2 linked regions of the Homo sapiens genome follow. The protein of the gene in region 2 purifies or fractionates together with the protein of the main gene of each other region. This does not show direct contact. Each region holds a gene or a part of one and is shown on either strand. Other genes may lie near its edges.

Region 1 (5,041 bases), on a different chromosome or scaffold from region 2:
TCCTTTTTTAAAAATCTCTTACATGTAAGTTATGAATCTTGTCAATTTATTGTTTATCTTTTGAGATAGGGTCTCCACCCAGGCTGGAGTGCTGTGGCGCAATCAGAGCTCACTGCAGCCTGGAATTCCTGGACTCAAGCAATCCTCCCACCTCAGCCTCCTGAGTAGCTGGGACTACAGATGTATGTCACCATGCCTGGCTAATTTTCTTTAAATTTTTTATAGAGATGGGGTCTCACTACGTTGCCCAGGCTGGTCTTGAACTCCTGGGCTCAAGTGATTTCCCCCCCCCCACCTCAGCCTCCCAAAGTGCTGGGATTACAGGTGCGAGCCACCATACCCAGCTCAACACCACTTATTAAAGAGACTATCCTTTCCTCATTGTGTTTTTTGTTTGTTTGTTTGTTTTGTTTTGTTTTTAAATCTTAGAGACAAGGTCTGCTTATGTTGCCCAGGCTGGATTTTATTGTTTTTTTTTAATATCTTGTTCACCTAGCCTTAAACAGTCACACTTTATGTCCTCATCACTTAATGCCTAGACAACCACTGTCTCTAAACTTACAGGATTTTCCATTTTTTTCATTCTTGTATAATTCAGTCTATTATATTGCCATGAAATTAATCTTTTTGAAAATAATGATTTAAATTAACAGTTGGGGGAAAAAGTCCAAACTCCTTAGCCTGGTAGTCAGGGTCCTCCATATTCTGGCCTCACTTCTGTTTCTTCAGCCTGTCTTCCACAATTTCCCTCTGTTTCAGTCTGGTTTATCTATTCCTTCTCAAATATATCACAGTTTTGTTTTTTGGTTTTTATTTTTGTTTTTTTTCTTTTTCTTCTCTCTCTCTCTCTTTTTTTTTTTGAGACAGAGTCTTAACTCTGTCGCCCAGGCTGGAGTACAGTGGCACAATCTTGGCTCATTACAACCTCCGCCTCCTGGGTTCAAGCAATTCTCGTTCCTCAGCCTGCCGACTTAGCTGGGATTACAGGTGTGTGCCGCCACGCCCAGCTAATTTTTGTAATTTTAGGAGATGGGGTTTCACCATGTTGGCCAGGCTGGTCTCAAACTCCTGGCCTCAAGCAATCCACCCGCCTCAGCCTCCCAAAGTGCTGGGATTACAGGCGTGAGCCACCATGCCTGGCCTAATATATCACAGTTTTGAAGCTAATCTGATTCTCTACTCACTGGGATTCCCAACATAATTTTTCCTCCATGACTGCTTTGCAGTGCCTTCTGGTCAATTCTGTTTATTTTTATTTTTCTGCTTATGTCTACATGCCAATGATTTAAGGATAGGATACCTTGTTTTTGACATTCTGTGACAGGGTGCTTGTGAATTTTTTTCCCATTAGTCACTTGGGGTTTTTGTATTGAAATATAACTCACCTATAATAAAATTCATCCTCTTAAAGCGTACAATTCAGTGGTTTCTGGTATATTCACAAGGTAGTACAACCATCAGTACTAATTCCAGAATGTTTTCATCCCTCCAAAAAGAAACCCATATCTATTAGTAGTTACCTCCCATTCTCTCCCTCCAGCCCCTGGCAACCACTAATCTACTTTATGTATCTATGATTTCCCTCCATTTCATATAAATGTAATCATACAATATGTGGTCTTTTCTGACTGGCTTCTTTTACCTAGCACAATGTTTTCAAGGTCCATCCATGTTGTAACATATAACATATATCATTACCTCATTCCTTTTGCATTTTTAAAAATTGTAAAAATACACGTAACATAAAATTTACCATCTTAACCATTTTAAGTGTACAGTTCAGTAGCATTAAGGTATATTCACACTGTTGTGCAACAATCTTGGGAACTTTTTCATCTTGAAAAACTGAAACTCTTTACCCATTAAACAACTCCTTATTTCCCTTCCTCCAGCCCCTGGCAACCACCATTATACCTTGTGTCTGTATGAGTTTCACTACTGTAGGTACCACATATAGGTGGAAACATACAGTGTCTGTCTGGCTTATTTCATTTAGCATAATATCTTCAAGGTGTATCCATGTCGTAGCATGTGTCAGAATTTTCATCTTTTTTTTTTTTTTTTTTTTTTTTGAGATGGAGTCTCACTTTGTTGCCCAGGCTGGAATGCAGTGGCGCGATCTCAGCTCACTGCAACCTCCGCTTCCTGGGTTCAAGCAATTCTCCAGCCTCAGCCTCCCAAGTAGCTGGGATTACAGGTACCCACCACCACAGCTGGCTAATTTTTTTGTACTTTTGGTAAAGATGGGGTTTCACTGTGTTGGCCAGGCTAGTTTCAAACTCCTGACCTGAAGTGACATGCCTGCCTCAGCCTCCCAAAATGCTAGGAATTACAGGCATGAGCCACTGCCCCCAGCCTCATTTTTAAGACTAATATTCCAGTATATGTATATACCACATTTTGTGTATCCATTCATCTGTCAAGGGGTATTCGAGTTGCTTCCACTCTTGGCTATTGTGAACAATATTGTTATGAACACAGATGTGCACATATTCGAGTCCTTGTTCTCACTGCTTTTGGATATATACCGAGAAATGGAATTTCTGGAGTCATTTGGTAATTCTATTTTTATTTTATTATTTATTTATTTTGAGACAGAGTCTCTGTCACACAGGCTGGAGTGCAGTGGCATGATCTTGGCTCACTGCAACCTCCACCTCCCAGGTGCAAGCAATTCTCCTGCCTCAGCCTCCCAAGTATCTGGGATTACAGACACCTGCCACCACACCCTGCTAATTTTTTATGTTTGTGGTAGAGACGGAGTTTCACCATGTTGGCCAGGCTGGTCTCAAACTCCTGACCTCAAGTGATGCGCCCACCTCGGCCTCTCAAAGTGCTGAGGTTACAGGTGTGAGCCACTGTGCCCCGCCGGTAGTTCTTTTTTGTTTTGTTTTGTTTTTTTGAGATGGAATTTCGCCCTCATTGCCCAGGCTGGAGTAAGTACAATGGCGCGATCTTCCCTCATTGCAACCTCCACCTCCTGGGTTCAAGCAATTCTCCTGCCTCAGCCTCCTGAGTAGCTGGGATTACAGGTGCCCACCACCACACCCAGCTAATTTTTGTATTTTTAGTAGAGATGGGGTTTTACCATGTTAGTCAGGCTGGCCCAATAATTCTATTTTTAATGTTTTATGGAACTGCCATACTGTTTTCCATGCAGCTGCATCATTTTACATTCCCACCAATACATGAGTGTTCCAGTTTCTCCACATCTTTGCCAACACTTGTTATTTTCTGCTTTTTGATAGTAGTCCTCCTAATAGGCGTGAGATGATACCTCATTGTGGTTTTGATTTGCATTTCCCTAATGACTAGTAATGTGGAACATATTTCCATATGCTTGTTAGCCATTTGTATATTATCTTTGAAGAAATGTCTATTCAAGTCTTTTGACCATTTTTTAAATTGGGTTATTTGGTTTTTTGTTGTTGAGTTATAGGAGTTCTTTATATATTCTCGATATTACCCCTTATCAGATAATATAATTTGCAAATATTTCTCCCATTCCATGGGTTGCCTTTTCACTCTGTTGATTGTGTCTTTTGATGCATAGAAGTTTCTAATTTTGACGTAGTCCAATTTATCTATTTTTTACTTTTTTTAAATAAGAGATATACTTTATATTTTTGTTTTATTGTGGTAAGAACACTTAACATGAGATCTACCCTCTGTATTTTTACTTTTGTTGCCTGTGCTTTTGGTGTCCTGGTGTATTTTTTTTTAAGTGTTAACAGATTTTTCCCCAGCTTTATTGAGCTATAATTGACAAATAAAATAATATATATTTAAATTTTACTATGTAATAATTGTTTTTTCTTTTTTCTTTTTCTTTTTTTTTTTTTTTTTTTACCAGGCTCGAGTGCAGTGGCACAATCTCAGCTTACTGCAACCTCCGCCTCCCAGGTTCAAGTGATTCTCCTGCCTCAGTCTCCCAAGTAGCTGGGATTACAGGCGTGCACTATCACGCCTGGCTAATTTTTGTATTTTTATTTATTTTTATTTTTATGTATTTATTTTTTTGAGACGGAGTCTTACTCTGTCGCCCAGGCTGGAGTGCAGTGGCATGATCTCGGCTCACTGCAATCTCTGCCTCCTGGGTTCAAGTGATTCTCATGCCTCAGCCTCCAGAGTAGCTGGGATTGCAGGCACGTGCCACCACGCCCAGCTAATTTTTGTATTTTTAGTAGAGACAGTGTTTCACCATGTTGGCCAGGCAGGTCTCAAACTTCTGACCTCAGGTGATCCTCTCATCTCGGCCTCCCAAAATGCTGGGATTATAGGCATAAGCCACGGTGCCCAGCCCAACGTGATAATTTTATATATGTATACATTATGAAATGTATACATTATGAAATGTATACATATTGTATACATATATACATTATGAAATGTATACATAATGTATACATATATACATTATGAAATATATACAATCAAGTTAACACATTCATCACCTCACATAACACATCACCTCAAATAGTTACACTTTTAAAAAATAACAGCTTTATTGAGATATAATTCACATGCCTGAAATAGTCACCCTTTTAAAGTATACAGTTCAGTGAATTTTAGTATATTCATAGGCTTATGAGCCTATCACCACAATCTAAATTTAGAACATGTTCATCACCCCTAAGAGAAACCCCACCCATTAGTTGTCACTCCTCATTCTTCTCACCACTTCTACCCCAAACTCCAGGCAGCTACTACTCTACGTTCTGTCTCTATAGATTTGCCTATTTTGGAGATTTCTAACATTTTAAAATGAAAAATAGTTTGTAGGGTCTTTTTCACATTAAAATATCACATTTTATAAGTTGAATTTATATGAATATTTTACTTTCATGCCGTGTTGTTTCACTATGTTATCAGTGTGAATTTGTGGCTCCTTTTGTAGTATGTTGATTATGGTTGTGCCAGTGTGCTTTATGCCTTTGGGAGACCCTCTTCAGATGACTGCCATCAAAAGAGTCATAGAAAGCAATGGGTTGATTCCCTTATATCCACTTTTGACATTTTCTTTGTTATAGCAAGTGTGGTA
Region 2 (6,208 bases):
AATGTATTGCCTAATTTAGGAACTTTGGGTTTTTTTTCAGTGATCTTTCTGTTACTGATTTGTAAGTTGATTCCCGTGTACTCAGTGGGTAACTACAAAGAGCCCCACAGCTAACATCACAATTAAAGTAAACTATTCTACCTGAGTTTGAGACCAAGAAAAGCACACCCATGAAAGCCACTTCAATTCGCAAAGCATTTGGAATAGCCAAGGCAATTTTGAACACCAAAGTTGGAGAAATGAAACTACCACACGGAGGATTATGCAAAGCTACAATAATTAAGATACTGCAGCATTAGCACAAGGATAGAGAACAGGACAAATGAAATGAAATAGATTCCAGAAACACATATATACAATCATACCTGATTCACAGTTTCCACGGCAATACAGTAGGGAAGGAGTGGTCTTTTTAGTAAGTGGTGCTGATTGATTTTGGGTATGTATATGAAAAAATTAGTCTTCATGCCTTATCACACCATTAACAAAAAATCAGTTTGAGATGTCTCATCAAAACAGTAAAGCTTCTAGAACATAGAAGGAATATCTTTATGTCGTTTGTAGACAATTTCTTAAATAAGACTCATGAAAGATAAACCATAAAACCACGATTTAGATCCAAATATGGGACATTTCCAGTGCCCCAGCACCCTTCCCAGTCGACAGCCCAGTTTTTAAAAAGGTAGGAGGGGGCAAAACTTGAATAGACATTTAATAAAAAGAAATACTCACGTGGCCGATAACTATATAATCTCAAGGTCCATTAATCATCAGGGAAGTGCAAATTAAAGCCACAATAAGGTACCACTACAATTTCAAGAGAAGGGCACTTACTAAAAGGACTGACAGTACCAAGTGCTGGATCAGTAGCAATGGAATTCGCAGTATCGGTGGTGGGAATGTAAATCGTTTCAATCACTCTGGAAATGTATTTGGCAGTATCTACACTAGACAGCTAAATATATGCAGTTCCAGCACTTCTCATAGCTATATATACCCACGAGAAATGATTACATGCTTACCAAAAGACACGCACAAGCTCATAGCAGCTTTATTCAAAATTGCCAAAGAATCAGCCTCAAAGTCCATCAACAGTGAAATAAATTTATACAAAACTGCCACAGTCACTCAACAAAATTCTACCCAGCAATGAAAAAGAATGTGCTACTGCTACACACAGCAAAAATGCATCTCACTTATTTTATTTCATTTTACTTTATTTTGAGACAGTCATGCTCTGTCACCCAGGCTGGAGGGCAGTGGCGCGATCTCAGCTCAGTGCAAACTCCCCCCTCCCAGGTTCAAGCGATTCTCCTGCCTCAGCCTCCCGAGTAGCTGGGACTACAGGCGCCCACCACCACGCTTGGCTAATTTTTCTATTTTATGCAGAGAAGGGGTTTCACTATGTTGGCCAGCCTGGTCTCAAACTTCTGACCCCAAGTGATCCACCCACCTCAGTCTCCCAAAGTGCTGGGATTACAGGCATGAGCCATCACACCCAGCCATCTCACTTATTTTAAAAAGCCAAAGACAAGAATCTTTGTGTGATTCCATTTATTTAAAGTTCATGAACAAGAAAAACCTCTGAGGTCAGAATAAGGGATGCCCTGTTGGGAGCATTTGACTGGGAAAGGGCTCAAAGACTTTGGAGCTACTTCTTGACAATAGGGAGCTGATGAGATGTCACTGTAAAAAACAACCTGACAGTTGATGACATTGCTTGCTAGCATCTACAGCCACAATGCACATATGGCCTAGCCTCACTTCTGCCTTTCGGAACTCCTGGAAGTCAGTCGAACATATTTTCAGCTAGAATCCTTGCTGCAAGGGAGTCTGGAATCTCTAGTGTTCATAGCCGTCTTCTTTTTAGTTTTTACAGGAGAAGACTGAGGGTCAGTGTTGCTAACAATAACGGAAGCCATACCACTTGATCCTGGCTGAACTGAAGTTTGAATAATAACTTTTGTTTCACTAGGCAACCCTTGCAGTTGCTCCGGCTTTTTAAATGTTTGATGGTCCTTGGTTTTGTGCTCTATTTCCTCCTTCAACGTCAAAAACTGTAGCCGGCACTTGGAACACTGAAGGACCCTCCTTCTGCTGTGCCTCCAACAATGATTCATGTATGGTATTGCAGTTTTGAAAAGTTTGAGACAAAACAGACAAAGCAAATTCTTTGTGTTTTCATGGCACGTTCTAAAATGTGTTTCCACATCAGCAAAGACCGACGATCTGTAATGGCAAACCTGGCACACATAAGGCATTTCGCCAGGCTTATGATGGTCCTTCATGTGTTGTAAGAGGACCTGATCTGTTTCAAATGACAATTCACAGATTTTACAGACAGCAGAGGGCCCCATGGCGATGTGTACACTATCAATGTGACACTGTAGCTGGAAGGGAGTGGGAAACTGCCGGTGGCAGTGCTGGCAGGTGGTGTGGTCTTCCCAGCTGTCGTTCCTCTGCTTCTCAAATTCCAAATGATGCTTCATGTGATTCATAAACTTAATATTTTTTAGAACTTTCACGCAGCTGAGGCATTTAAAGGTGGTGTGAGTCTTCTGTTCCGGCTGCCCATCTCCTTTATGCTGTCCATAGTAAAAGTCGCTAAGTAACACGATGGGATTTTCTTTCTTGGGATCAAAGGTCTTGTTTTGACTTGCTAGACTTGAAATGTCTGTCATTGCCAGGGCAGACTCACTTGCTCTCTCTGGATCTGTAAGATTGAAATGTGCCTTTCCATTAGCATCAGGCCAAGGAAATGTTACTCCATTCTGAACATGGTTTGATGAGTTGCAGATCCCCTGTGAGGGTGTATTTGTGCTTATTGTAGAAGACATATCTGAAGGGACCACAGCTAAAGAAGGTACCCCTGGGATTCCATCCCTGAGTTTAACCCTTTTGGAATCTCTGCTGTTTATATCTGAAGTGGAAAGTCGCTTTGAATCAGGAGAACTCTCATTTCTGCCTCCTCCAGAGACCATAGCTCCAACTAGACACTGAGTCCCTGGGGGGAGCGAGTCTGAGGAACTGGGAGAAACAACTTGTGGTGAGCTCATTTTATAACCAGGTTCAGATGAAGACTTCATAGTGACAGGACTATCTGTCGATCGCCCCTCAGACAGAGAAACCGGCATGATGGCTTTTGCCATAGAGGTCACATGATTTGCAGGCTGCGACACGTGAGCAGGATATTGACGGAAGTGGCCTTTCTTTCTTCTTGAATTTGAGCCTGGGGTGACTCTGTTCAAAATGTTTGAAACGACTGGTTTTGAATTTGAAATCATCCCGACAAAGAGAACTTCAGCATCTCTATGTACATGCTCCACCCCAACATAGATCAGATCTGGATCTTCATCATCCTCCTCCCTTTGTTTGGATTCTCTCAAATTCTTCTTTGGTGATTCCACTTTCTTACACAAAAAGATATCTCCCATTTTCAATTTACTTTTTGCTTGAAGCCACTGGTCTCTTCAACTTCCAGAGCTGTCTTTTTACAAATTGCCACCTAAGTGCAACCATGTGACAATAGTCAATATTTATTTCGAAAGACAAAATCATTACTTTATTGTATCCTCCCTTAAAACACTGAGATAACCATCAACATCTCTATTTTACACGTCAGAAATGAGGCTTGAAACATTTTAAATGGCATAATAATTTCAAATTTACCTGTCTCTCCTCCCCTGGTCTTCTGCAGTTGTGAGGCAAAGGAAGCAAGATTTCAGGAGGTGCAGATGGAACATCTCAGAGTGCTTGCCTCTAAATTTTGCACTCTAGATGCCTCACTCACCTCCTCCTCATCCCACAGGTACTCTCTCAGATGTCTAAGGTTTCTAACCAACTTGAACAAAACTTCTCTCAAAAACATTCTGCTCCTAGCCTGGGCAACATAGCAAGACCCCATCTCTACAAAAAAATTTAAAAATTAAAAAAAATTAGCTTGGCATGGTGGTACACACCTGTGGTCCCAGCTACTTGGGAGGCTGAGCCAAGAGGAACACTTGAGCCCAGGACTTCAAAGCTATGTTCATGCCACTGCACTCCAGCCTGGGCAACCAAATGAGACCCCATCACACAAACACACACACACACAAATCACAGCACACACACACACACACACCCTTTGCTGTTCCTGTAATGTTCCTTTTCTCAGTAAACTCAGTTGCTCAGTCTACAAACTTCAGAGTCATCCTTTGCCAGACTTTCTCTCATACACTACAGCCAATCAATTAGCAAAGCTAGTCTGCTCTATCTTTTAAAGATATCCAGAATCTGACTACTCTCTTCCACATCTACTGCCACCTCCCTGATGGAAGGTACCATGTTCTCTCCCTGGATCACTGCAGAAGTTGCCAGTCTTAAAAGTTTTGTCAGATCTCCCCATGGTGGCCCCAATGCCCCTGTTAAAATATACAGGGGAGCAAGTATATTTCGCTCTTAAGTCTTCAATGACTTTCCATTTCATTCATAGGAAATACCAGCAAACTTTAAATTTCCCCATGGAACCTTAGGTCATCATCGCCCTTGCTAACTCCTCTGTTGCTCTGATGCAGCCATCCTGAGCTCCGTGAATCTGGAACACAGCAGGCCTTTTTCTTTTTCAGAACTTTTGTTGTTCCCGGACGTTGCGTGCCTCTTTCCCCAGATTAACCCCATCTGGGCTCCTGGTCTGCCTCAGTCCCATGGTTCCTCTTCAGCAAGGCTTACCTGACCACAATATCAAAAATCACAACCTCCTTAACTCATATGTTCAAACCCTCAATGTTATTTTTCAACTTAGCATTTATCACTGCCTACCACACAATATGTAAAATATATCTTGCAAGCCCAGGAGTTTGAGATTACAGTGAGATATATCATGTCACTGCATCCAGCCTGGGTGACAGAGGAAAGGAAGACTCTGTGTCTTAAAACAACAACAAAAAATGGGACAGGTGCAGTGGCTCGTACCTGTAATCCCAACACTTTGTAAGGCCAAGGCGGAAGGATTGCTTGAGGTCAGGAGCTCGAGACCAGCCTGGGCAACATAGCAAGACCCATCTCTACAAAAAATTTAAAAATATAACTTGTTTCTTTTCTGTGTTTACCCACTAAACTGTATGCCACACGAGGGCAGGGAGTTGTGTTTCATTTACTCCTCAGCTTATAGAGCAATGTCTGTCATACTGTGCATGCTAAATCTTTGTTAAATAAATAGTAGCTGTTATTAATATGATCATTTAGGTGTACCAGAGGCTCTAATCCATTATTCCAGATTCTCTAAGCATTTAATGAAATCCAAATCCAAATGATTTAATACTGTTGTACAAGGGAGAAGGTAAACCTGTGTGTATGTGTGTGTAAATTGAAACAAAAGTTTTGTCAAATACTCTAATACCTTCACCTTACCACAAGGGATAGGCTCTGATACCTTCTATGCCATATTTTATTGATTCTAAGGTATAGGCTTAGATTTCCATTTTAACATCTCTAAATCAGATTGCATCTCATCATAGCATCTCATCAATATAAAATACATTTCATAATTTGTTTTTGCAGTATATATTTTTATTTCATAGTGGAATCAAAAATGACATATCTCAGATCCTTTTGTGAGGATAAGCGTGATGCTTGGGTTTTCACTCATGTGAGATGTGCTTCCCTCAAACCTTGTTATATCAGCATGTTTAACATCTGATGTAAAAAAAAAAAAAAAGGAGAGTAATGTATCTTTTATAATTGATGGCATCTTTTTTTTTTTTTTTTTGAGATGGAGTCTCGCTCTGTCGCCCAGGCTGGAGTGCAGTGGTGCGATCTCGGCTCACTGCAGGCTCCGCCCCGCGGGGTTCACGCCATTCTCCTGCCTCAGTCTCCCGCGTAGCTGGGACTACAGGCGCCCGCCACCTCGCCCGGCTAATTTTTTGTATTTTTAGTAGAGACGGGGTTTCACCGTGTTAGCCAGGATGGTCTCGATCTCCTGACCTCGTGATCCGCCCGCCTCGGCCTCCCAAAGTGCTGGGATTACAGGCATGAGCCACTGTGCCCGGCCAATTGATGGCATCTTATAGTCAGTGAAAAATCCTATTTCTTTTTGTAAGCTGACAGCACACTAAACTTGTTTTGTAGTTCTCTAATGGATATCAGCTACATTTTGGCAAACAATGGTTTAAGACAGAAATTGGAAAATTGGCCCTTCCCCTGTTTTTGTACAGTCAGGAAGCCAAGAATG

The links. Proteins that work in one complex are often made in the same cells at the same time.
Region 1: the proteins of ZNF280A (region 2) and UPF3B purify together in Homo sapiens (affinity purification with mass spectrometry; one large-scale study listed by BioGRID and IntAct). This does not show direct contact.

What each region holds. Positions count from the first base shown.
Region 1 is NC_000023.11:119,845,313-119,850,353, reverse strand, and holds part of UPF3B (regulator of nonsense transcripts 3B), read left to right. Parts: intron 1-5,041. UniProt on the Homo sapiens protein: Involved in nonsense-mediated decay (NMD) of mRNAs containing premature stop codons by associating with the nuclear exon junction complex (EJC) and serving as link between the EJC core and NMD machinery.
Region 2 is NC_000022.11:22,512,197-22,518,404, forward strand, and holds the end of ZNF280A (zinc finger protein 280A), read right to left. Parts: intron 5,680-6,208; exon of another isoform or gene 5,584-5,679; intron 3,506-5,583; 5' UTR 3,435-3,505; coding exon 1,806-3,434; 3' UTR 1,540-1,805; downstream 1-1,539. UniProt on the Homo sapiens protein: May function as a transcription factor.